Linked DNA regions of Homo sapiens: region 1 is linked to region 2. Evidence: fine-mapped expression QTL. Tissue or cell type: whole blood. Region 2 holds a variant in brackets; the other region holds the start of a gene. All regions are shown on one strand. Distances are between the middles of the regions. Region 1 holds the start of MIR646HG (MIR646 host gene). Region 2 overlaps MIR646HG (MIR646 host gene).

The links.
Region 1: it holds the start of MIR646HG, and the variant in region 2 is fine-mapped to the expression of MIR646HG in whole blood (INTERVAL, PIP 0.94).

The regions. Positions count from the first base shown.
Region 1 is chr20:60,135,656-60,141,043 of GRCh38, reverse strand. MIR646HG (MIR646 host gene) reads right to left here and starts at 2,552. Exons shown (of 5, transcript NR_046099.1): 1 at 2,400-2,552.
Region 2 is chr20:60,230,995-60,236,382 of GRCh38, reverse strand. All of the region lies in intron 3 of MIR646HG (MIR646 host gene), which reads right to left. Among named protein-coding and RNA genes, the nearest start is that of MIR646, 75 kb to the left of the region's middle. The variant A/C (reference allele first, on the strand shown) is at 2,269.

The DNA of each region.
Region 1 (5,388 bases), 95 kb after region 2:
TGTTTTCAAATGAGATAAGGCTGAAAGGCCACATGACTCCCTTCATAAGTGATTCAGGGAGGAAAGAAAACTAGAGCTAAGATCACCAATTTTTTTGTTGTTCTTTGTTCCATGGTTGTGCTGAACCCCTATTAAGCTCAATAGGAAGGCCGAAGAGACCCAGAGCTAGCAACCAAGCCATGGGGTTTTATTAGGGGCTTACGTGCAGGGAGAGTGTTCAATGATGGTGGGCTGAACAGGGAAATCACCTTATGTACAGAAATGCTCCAGTGGTGGCGGGCCGGGCAGGAAAACTGTAACCTCTTCTGAACAGCATGTCATGTACATACCATTTTCACTTAACACCCTCCTGGTAACCTCGCCCTGGCAACCTTCATCCAATCCCAAACTCAGGGCCTCAATCCCGTGAACGGCCCACGTTCCACAGAACAGGCCAGGGGCTCAGATGTTTATCATAGACACAGAATCAATCTCCGGGTTGGCCACTCCTGGATTCCCTAGCACAGAACACACATTTAGGCGCATCTGCCATACAGGGTCATTCTAAGGGTATGCTTATTACTATCAGGTGCATTTACCCTACATTCCCCCCTCATGAACATTAAAATGTTGAGGTTTCTTGATGGAAATTTTTTGTCCATTCGTAATTTTGGTTTAATCATTGTTAGTTTTTGATCAAGCTCTGTGGGGCCTCTGTGGCATGTACAGTGCTGTGCTGGACAAGGCAGGGGACTAACAGAGTAACACACGTCCCCATCCCCTGCAGAGCCGGAGCCCTGCCCAGGAGAGAGAGAGGGTGTAGACAGCCTCATGACGATGCAGAATGGGGAACAACTGTGTCATAGCAAAGGACCACGCATGATGTTAGGGGTGTTTAAAGGGCAGAAAAGAAGTCTGTTCCAAGAGTCAGGGACCAGGGAGGCTTCACACAGGAGCTGGACACCAGAGCAGCTTCTGCTAGGGCCTCCTGGGAGACATAGTGATCTGGCCTCTCCAGGAGAATGCAATGTCCCACCTGACAACCATGCAAAGAAATGAATGGTGAAACAGACAGCAGGTCCCCTTTGCCTATTACACTAGCATTAAAATGTAGTGGACATACCTAGTGCTGGCAACAGTGTGATGAAATTGGCATTCTCATCTATTTCTGGAAGCATCTGGCAAACTGCCTACTGGGAAGATAAGCTTTTGGAAATCATCAGTCAACACGCGTGAAGCGCTATTGTCGATGTTTGTGTCATCGGCCCAGCAATCAGACATGTGGAAATCTGTCCTAACGGATGTTGTTGTTAGCAAAAGAAAAACAATATTCTCCACTGGGTTCATTTCCCAACAGCTGGAAGCAATACAGGCATCAGAGAATGGCCACCTGAATGAATACTAACTGCTCAGTGTTGAGTAGCCCTTAAAATAATTTTTCTGAAGAAATTCAGCCACCTGCAAACAAAAATCTTAAGGTATGTTAAATTAAAAATCATGTCTCAGAATTTTACTGAGGACAATTGCAAATACTCAACAAGTAATAAACCTTGGGCAAAGATACTGGAAGGAATTACAAAATAATAGTGCTATCATTAAGATGGTGTGGTTGGTTGTGGTTTTTATTACATATTTTCCCTGCTTTTCAAATGCGCTAAGATGTTCTTACAGATAACAGTTGGAGAATGCAAAATATTAGAGAGAGAGAAATGAGAATGAAAGGTCACCTCCTTATCGTTGAAGTGGTAATAAAAGTAGTCACAGGACCTTCTCATTGCCAGCAGCACTAGCCCTCATGTGAACTTTATTTTCATTCTTTTCTGTTGCTGAAAATTGGTATCCAAGGGCAGTTAAGTCTCAGGGGCATGGCTTGACCTCAGGCTGACCTCAGCCCAGCACCAGGCTGGATTTCTGAAGCTAAGCAACAGGTTCTGAGGTAGGTCAGAGAGGGTGGTCACAGCCTCACTTAAAGGAGAGCAAACTTGCTAAATAGATGGCGAGAACAAGCCACCTGCGGTGCACAAGCCGCATCCCAGGCTCGTGGTTAGACCATCCTTTAGCGAGGAGGTCAAAGAGCGAAGGAAAAATCCGCGAATTCATCCAAGTGCAGAAACCCAAGATGAGTGTCCTTGGGCTGACCTGCGCTCATTAGAATACTAAAGAACTGGGTGGAGATTTACGATGCTAACGAGACATGCGATGTGTGTACTAGCATGCACAACCACAGCACATGTGCCACCAGGAGACAGCCCAGAACATGCTTCACGGCAACACCCCTTCCCAGCCCTTCATGAATAATCATGTAAGACCCCCATAAAGGGGGTTTCCCCAGTGTCGGCCAGCACTGCCTCGCCTTTGAGCGGCCGCTCCGATCCGCTGGCAGAGTGCGCTTTCGCTGTGCGATCAACTCCCTTGCTTACCTTTACTTTGGACGTGCTCTCAAGTTCTTTTGTGTGGCGAAGTCAAGACCCTGAACCGGTCCACCAGCAACAGTTCTTTCGGAGTCCCTCAACCACAGGCCCTGAAAGCCGCTGAGTTAAGTCTTTAAACTGCGGGAGAGCCTGGGAGCATCTGAAACGCAAAAGGACTCCCAGTGGATAGGGAGGCAGCACCCTGACCGGAACCGGAAGAGGTTTGCCGGTGAGCCTGAGTCTCCACACACAGTGATCCGGGCACCCGGGCTGCCGTGTGGCAGGTGAAACCGCGTGTGGTGTGGATGTTTCTCCAGCTGTGTTCTGTCGAGCCCCTAAAAGTCTGGCCTGCATTGGAAGGGCCTCCCCAGTGTCCTCGTTTCTGTTCAAACAGAAAAGTTCTTATTTTCTGTATTTGTGGTTTTTGCTTCCTCATATAATTTCGGTTGCACAAAGCTAAAAAATATTTGAAAACCTCTACTTAATCGTATAACTAAATGCAACATTATCTTTTGCTTATTTAATAACTATTTTAATATTTATTTTCTATTTATATTAATAGTGATAATAAAAATATAGCTTGGAGTGAGAGAAAAGCTTTCCTCTCTGTTAACTATCACTGTATCATTTAACTACCACTAGCTATTCCTCACAACGGTTTCTAAAGTGTAAGCACCTGCCACCTCATTAGCCTCTAAGCTCCACAGTGCCAGGGACTCTTTGCCTTAGTCTCTGCTATGTGCTCAGAATACCCAGCACATACTAGGTTTGAACAAAATGCATTTTGGAGAGTGGATGCTGCTGCCACCTGGTGACAGCATACCCACATTTCATGCTTAGCACTTTGATTACTTAATGAAATTCATGAGGAATGGAATCAGAAAACCTAAGACATGCATCTGTGTGATAGCAATCTCACTTTCCTCACTTAGCTTTTTCTGTTTCCCTACTCTGCACAGATTGGAGACATCTGAGTTTTCTCTGCCCCCATCACCTGCACCTGCCCTGGTGGCATGCACTTGCACCTCCTCTGTCTGGTATTAGGTTGGTGCAAAAGTAATTTCTGTTTTTGCCATTACAACTGCATAAACTGCGATTACTTTTGCACCAACCTAATAATAGGGCTTGCCCCTCCAGAGGATAGAATCTTTGCTTGTCACCTTAGAACTTCTCACACAGAGCACTGCATTCATCAAACCCTGGTCTCAGCCATCCTCGGGGCACATGGAAGGTCATGCCCATAAATCAATGCCTCAGCCAACATCTGGTCTCCCCTTCTGCCATTCCCTGTGTCCCTGCCCTGGCACCAGGCATTTGCAGGTGCAGGGGGCAACATCATTTAGTTAGCTTCATCTGGGCAGGGAGGAGCATTATTAAACATGAGAGATAGCTGTTGGCTCATGGAAAAGATTAGTTTTAAGCTATTTAAGGCAAAGCAATAAAGGATGTGGTTTCCTCCTCTGACATGCTTCCTAATTTGTAGATTCATATGACATCACACTGGATTACAAAGCCACATTACTCTGATTGGTAATATTATGCTATCCTAATTCAGTTTGTATAATTATTTAATTTTTTAGGACTGCTCTCAAATATTAACATTGTGTTCGGTAGAGGCCAGAAAAAATTGGGAACATGCATCCACACACGTGGAGAAGCTTAATTGCTAGAATAATGCAGGGCAATTATTGTAATGAGAACAAAGCCTCATGTCTGGCATACACATGTGACTGTGTCCAGCCCAACTTCCACTGAAGTGACAGTCACTGGACTCGAAGCTCCTCAAGGACAGGGGCTGTGTCGCCTTCACAGACATGACTCATTGCCGGTGCTCAATCAGGGTTGAGCTGACTTGACTTGAAGCCAAATAAGGACAAAGAAAGGTCAGGCAGTCCTGAAAAAGCCAAGGGTCTGAGAGACAACACTCGCTGTTGTCCTCGCTGTTTAATTCTCTGAGGTCCATTAGGAAGTAGGTAGGAGCCATGTCATCATGGCCACTTGGGCCAATCGTCTGCACAGATGGGGAAGGCATCTGCCCCCACAGTGAACACTAGGCTTATCTGCCTCCTAAATCTCTCTCCAGGCTAACTTCCATGGTTATTCAAATCCCTCTATTAAATATTCAGACCTCCAGCCCCTGGACCTCTATGGTCCTCCTGACAAAGCTAGAGCTGTGATTTCTCTGCACCTCCATTCTTCATCTGCAAAATGGGGCCATAGAGTCTACTCCACTGGGTTGAGAAGCTACTGGAAACCAGGCTGCCAAGTGCCTGATGCAGTATCTGTCTTCAGCTGGCCTCCACACAAAGACAGTTTCCTCTTTTAAATTATATCTAGACTTTTAATCATTTTTTTACATTTTTATGGGTACACAGTAGGTGTATATATTTATGGGGAACATGAGATGTTTTGATACAGGCATGCAATGCACCATAATCACACTATGGAAAATGGAGTATCCATCTCCTCAAGCATTTGTCCTTTGTGTTACAAACAATCCAATTATATTCTTAGCTATTTTTAAATGTACAATTAAATTATCGTTGACTCTACTCACCCTATTGTACTATCAAACACTAGGTCTTATTCATCCCCATGTCCGTCCTCCTCACCCCCGCAACACTTCCCAGCCTCTAGTATCCATCCTTCTACCCTCTATCTCCATGAGTTCAATTGTTTGGATTTTTGGATCCCACAAATAAGTGAGAACATGTGATGTTTGTCTTTCTGTGCCTGGTTTATTTCACTTAAGATGATGACCTCCAATTCCATCCCTGTTGTTGCAAATGACAGGTTCTTATTCTTTTTTATGGCTGAATAGTACTCCATTGTGTAAAGTACCACATTTTGTCCTCTTATTGCTTTTCGTCACTGCTGAGAGCCAGTCCTATCTGCTGCTTTTCCAGGGTTTCCTAGGAAGATGCCCACTCTATGTGTTAGACCAGAAGTTTAAGTTAACGTGGTCTATGGACAATCACAGCCCATGCACCCATGGCAG
Region 2 (5,388 bases):
AACTACCTACTATGCACTGGGAAAATGCTATATTATCCTTCAGTTTAACTGATAATGCAATGCTATAATTTGTAAAGGAAAATATTTATTTTGTAGGAAAGTCCCTACAGAGGACATTGAAGTGGGAAGAGCTCACAGGTGCTAATTCTCCTGAGGCTGGCACACCTTTCTTTTCACCTATACCATCCAGGCAGAAGAGATGCTCCCTCTCTGAGTGCCCTCTGTGTTTGTGGGGAGGGGCATGTGCCAGAGTTCTGGCCAATGAGATGTTAAGTGAAGTCTTCTAGGTATTGGGTCCTGGGATAGAGATGGCTGGCACAGATCTTCCCTTATTCTTACTGCCTTGAATGTCAATATGATGTCTGGAACTGGAGCAGCCATTTTATTACCACGAGGAAGAGATTTGCAAAGATGTTGACTCTTATATTGTTGATCTACTAAACCAATGCCAAGAACTGACTATGTTCAGATTTCTTGTCATTTTAGAGAAATAAGCCTTTAATTATTTAAGATACATTGAGCACAGCTTTGTTTTTGTTGTTGTTGTTGTTTGTTTGTTTAGCCAAAACATTCTTAACTGTGTGTCCCTTGTATTATGTGAAGGGGATACAATGGATATTTATTCTTCTTTATACTGATAACTACAGATAAACAGAAGTTTAGGTGTTTTCTTAACACTTAAAGGTAACTATTCATGGCCATAAAAATGGACATATGTCTTCAAGATTACTAAGAAATGATTAAAGGCAATATAATCCATACAGCAAAGAAAAAAAGAGGCATAAATACAGAATACGGAAATAGAATGACAAGAAGAAGATCAAGTATATCATATCCATTGCAACAAAAATGTAAATGTGTTAAACTTTCTATCAAATGATAAAATATCTCCTACAGGTACATATATATCCAATTATATATGTCTAAAAGACACTCCAGCATAAAGTGATAAAGAAAAGTTAAAGATAAAAGGAATACTGACAGAAGTACTTATATAACTAGAATAATGCATCTTATTAGAGGTTACATGGGAAAATCCTGTCATCACCTTCTACATGGATGTAGGCATAGAAAGGCATCTGATAATATTCAACATTCTTTTCTGACACATTTTCCTAATAAACTCAAATCAGAAGAAAGTTGCTGTCATGGTAAAGACTATCTATCTTTAGGCAGTACCACTTGAAGCATACCATTATTGTCTATATAAAGGTAAGAATCCCCATAAGCTTTGTATTTGTCATTGTTCTATCAAAAGTAATTAAGCATCCTAAAATGATCTGTTAGAAAAATAGAGATGATGATTATTACTACCATACAGAAAAAAGTCTACCTGGAAAACAGAAGAGCTACTGAGATACGTAACAAGGGCTCATTAAATCACCTATTAATAAATAGAAAATCAATGCGTGTCTTTACCCACAATAACCAGTTAAAAAAATAAAATAAAGATTCCAGGGATAATGGCCACAAAAACGTAACATACCTCAGGCTAATCTCAAAAAGAAACGTACAGGACTTCATAAAAATATTATAGCACTGTACTGAGAAATATAAAAGACAATGAAGAAATGGAGAGGGCATCATAGTCTTAAGTGAGAAGGTCTGATGTCGTAAAAATATCAAACTTTAAATTTAGTGAAATTCCAATGAAAGTTCTTATGTAAGGCTTTTTGAATCTTAACAATATGATTTTAAAGTTTTTCAAGATGAAAAAGTGGATAAAGTCAGCCAAAAAGTTATGAGAGAGAGAGAGAGAAAGGGAAGGAGGGATAAAACAAGAGAAGGAGAAAGGGAGGGAGGGGAAGCGCAGAGGTGGATTGTCTTAACAAAATATGAACAGTAAGTTAAAATAGTCTCTTATTATCCAGAAATAATCACAAATATCACCAGGACAGATTCAAAACTTAGAAGCAAACCCATGAATTGTGTGTGATAAGAATGACATTAAAAATGAATGGCACAAGGTGACGGGTATGTTAATTTGGTTGATTGAATCAGCCTATGTTGTATACGTATACCCAAACATCAAATTGTACTCCACAACTGTATATAATTATAATATGTCAGTTAAAATAATAGTAAAATTATTTTTAAAATTAACACGAAGTGGTTAATTCAACAGATGTGAGATCATTTATAATAAAACAAAGTTGGATCCCTACTGGCGGCTTGCACCAAAATAGAATCCATGAGTATGAGTGATTGCAGGGTCAAATGGGAAGTAATAACTTGGAGAAACTATCTGCATTATATGTGCATAATATT[A/C]TTAATACCCAAAGAGATCTTCTAAATAAGAAAGTGAGAAGCACCTCAATAAAAAGATGGTTAAAAGATGTGATTAGGTAATCACGAAAGAAGATACAAATGTTTGAAGTTACCAGAAATGGAAAGAATTCTATAGCAACATTCCATTTCTCACTTAGAAGCTTGGGAGATATTTTGAAAGCTGTAATGATGTTTGGTGATCAAGGAAAGGTGGAATGGAAAACCCATCGGGCCAGGGAGCATAAATTAGTAGATTTCACCATGGAGAGTAATTTGATGTTACTTATATAGCAAACTTGCAGGAAAGTATCCCGAAAAATAATCTCAGATGAAGGCAAATTAAGAACAAGGATGTCAGAGATGTGATAGTTACAATGGTGAATATTGAGAAAAAAACTTAGGAGCCCAAGAATAAAGGAGTGGTATCCAAATTAGGGCACCACCATTTGAAGGCATGCTATGCAGCTATGAACAAATGTTTTAGAGAATATTGTATGGCATGGGAAAGAAAGATGAGCAAGAAAAGGCTACACTATCATATAGATGAATGGTGCCAGTAAGGAAGAAGAGAAGGAGGTGGTGGGGAAGGAATGGCTGGAATTCAGTTCTCTTTCTCTCTCACAGGAAATGGATCTCTCCAGGTTCCCCAGGGTGATAAGTCTGGATAGAACCATTGAGTCATAGCGTTTGGACAGAGACCTCCAGTGAAGGATTTTTTCCTTCTGTTCTTAGAGATAGTTATGCTTGTTTTTCCTCCCACTTAAAGATGGAGGTTAACCCAGCAGGCTGACAGTGTGTGTCTGAGGCAATTCTTCTCACCATGACCGTTGGTTTGTCAGATTTATTTGCAGCAGTAATTCATACCAGACAACTTAACACCATTGCTGTTTCCTCCCCAGCAGTTCAGGGACATTGAGATGAATCTTCAAAGGGCCAACATAGCTCCAGATGCTGGGCACTGTCCCAGACATGGGCCATTTGTCCCATGTGGGCGCCTACAGAAGCTGACATTGCCCAAGCTCAAGCCACACCCATCTGTCAGGGAACAGGTTGGCTGGTGCTTCTTGAATTAGAGTTTGTAGAGTTTGATTTGAGAGAAGTCTACAGTATTTGGAGGAAATGATTTTTTTAAGAAGAGTCACAAATCATCTGTGCTGACTAGGCACTGGATACCTGCCCAACAGGTACATATAATCTTGTCCCAATACGTAGACATAAGGGTCACTTGTACGAATCTCCTATCTCCTACACCCTTTTAATTGATGAAAACCCCATGCTTTATTGCACTTTGCCATTTTTGCAACACTTGTTATGTAACTATATTCCAGGCTGCAAACAGGGCTAACAAAGGCAAGTCAAGAAAACTAAGACATGATTCCTGCTAGTAAGCATCTCACGGTCTACTTGGAAAAACAAATATATAAGCAAATAACTAGAACTCTGAGTACAGTGAAAAGGATGTGAAGGAAGGGCTGTGGGAATTGGAAAGTGATGCTCAACCCTGCCCCCAGGGAGATCCGTGATAGAGACAGTGACATCTGAGCTGTCAATACGAGTCTTCAAAACAGGCAGGTGCATTTCCCTTGAAAGGCACAGCATGTGCAAAGATGCAAAGATGCAGAAGTGGGAAGAGCACAGAACTTGGTATCTGCAGGCACTCAAGCCACCTGGGTAATTTTACGTTGATTTCTGGCATCCCTTGACATGACCATGAAAATCAAATTTTGTATAAGTTGCAGCTTTTAACCAAGGACTCCTGGAGCCCAGAGAGGCCTGAACAGACTCTCCAGGGACCCTGAAGCCCCTGAAAGCAGGTATATTTTCCTGGTCCACAGTTTTCATGAGATTCTTAGGCATCCATCACTCCCAAAGGTTCCGAGGGTCATGTAGATATGGTTACCTCTTGTGTTGCTGGACTGTGTCTCATGGAAAACCTTGAAAAGAGAGAACCACAGGAGTTCCCCAAGACCTGCTTACATTCAGGCGAGGTTGATCTCTTTGAGAATAAAGGTCCTCTCCTTTCACAAATGCAGTCCCATCGGTCCATGTGAAGCTTAGGTTCTGCGTGCTGAAAGGAGGCTCACCCAGCAGAGGTTCCCCCCGAGACTCCTTTAATGCTAGGCCCTTGGGAAGAGACACAGTGCAGGGGTGCAGAAGCAGCATCCAAGTATCTGCCCTCTGAAACTGCCAGCGTCTCTGAGGTGCAACCAGCTTGGATCCTCACCTGCCAGAAAGAGCAACCCCAAGCATTCTTACAGGGTTATGTAAGGACCAAAATAAACCACATGTATGAATGCATTTTGAAAAGTACCAAGATATGCTCAAGCTATCACACCGTTGAAGGGCAAATGCAAACAGAGATAGGAGGCTCTGCTCCAGGCACACCAACCTGGTGACCGTTTGGCATCTGAGAGGGCAGAGTGCTGGGTGGATTTTGGCGCTCCCCTTGCCCTCTTGTGCAGTGAGCAGCCTGTATAAAGCACCTTGGACTTTTTCCTAAGGGCAGGCTGCTTGGGCAGCATAAAATGATAATAAGGTCTCTATTTGTCCAGTGTTATATACTATCCATGGGTTTTTTTCCTCAAATAATCTCATTACTATTCATAACCCCAACTATATTAACAGAGAGTTGAATAGGCATTAGTACATTCATGTAAGCAAAGGAAAAAAGGGTTGGTTCACAAAAGAAGAAATATAGGTGATCATGATCAATAAACATGTAAAAACCAGAAACCTTTGCCTCTCCAGTAATTCAGTAAATAAAAATTAAAACAAGATACTATATTCAACCTGTCACATTGGCAATAATGGCTTTGAAGGTTAATGCTTGTTTGATACATTGCAAAATTTACTGAGTAACTACTAGTTACCAAGCAGTAAAATGGGCAAAGAGGATACAGAGTTGCACCAGTATGACCAAGTCCCTGTCCTCAGTGGGCTTCTGGTCTAGAGCAGGGCTGCTCAGCCTTGCACAATTGACATGCCACGGCAGGTCACTCTTTGGGTGGTGTGTGTGGTTGGGGGGAGGGGTATCCTAGGCATTGTAGGATGTTCAGCAGTGCTCAGCCTGCACCCACTAGTTGTCATTAGCACCCTCTCCATTTTTGGTGAGGATAACCA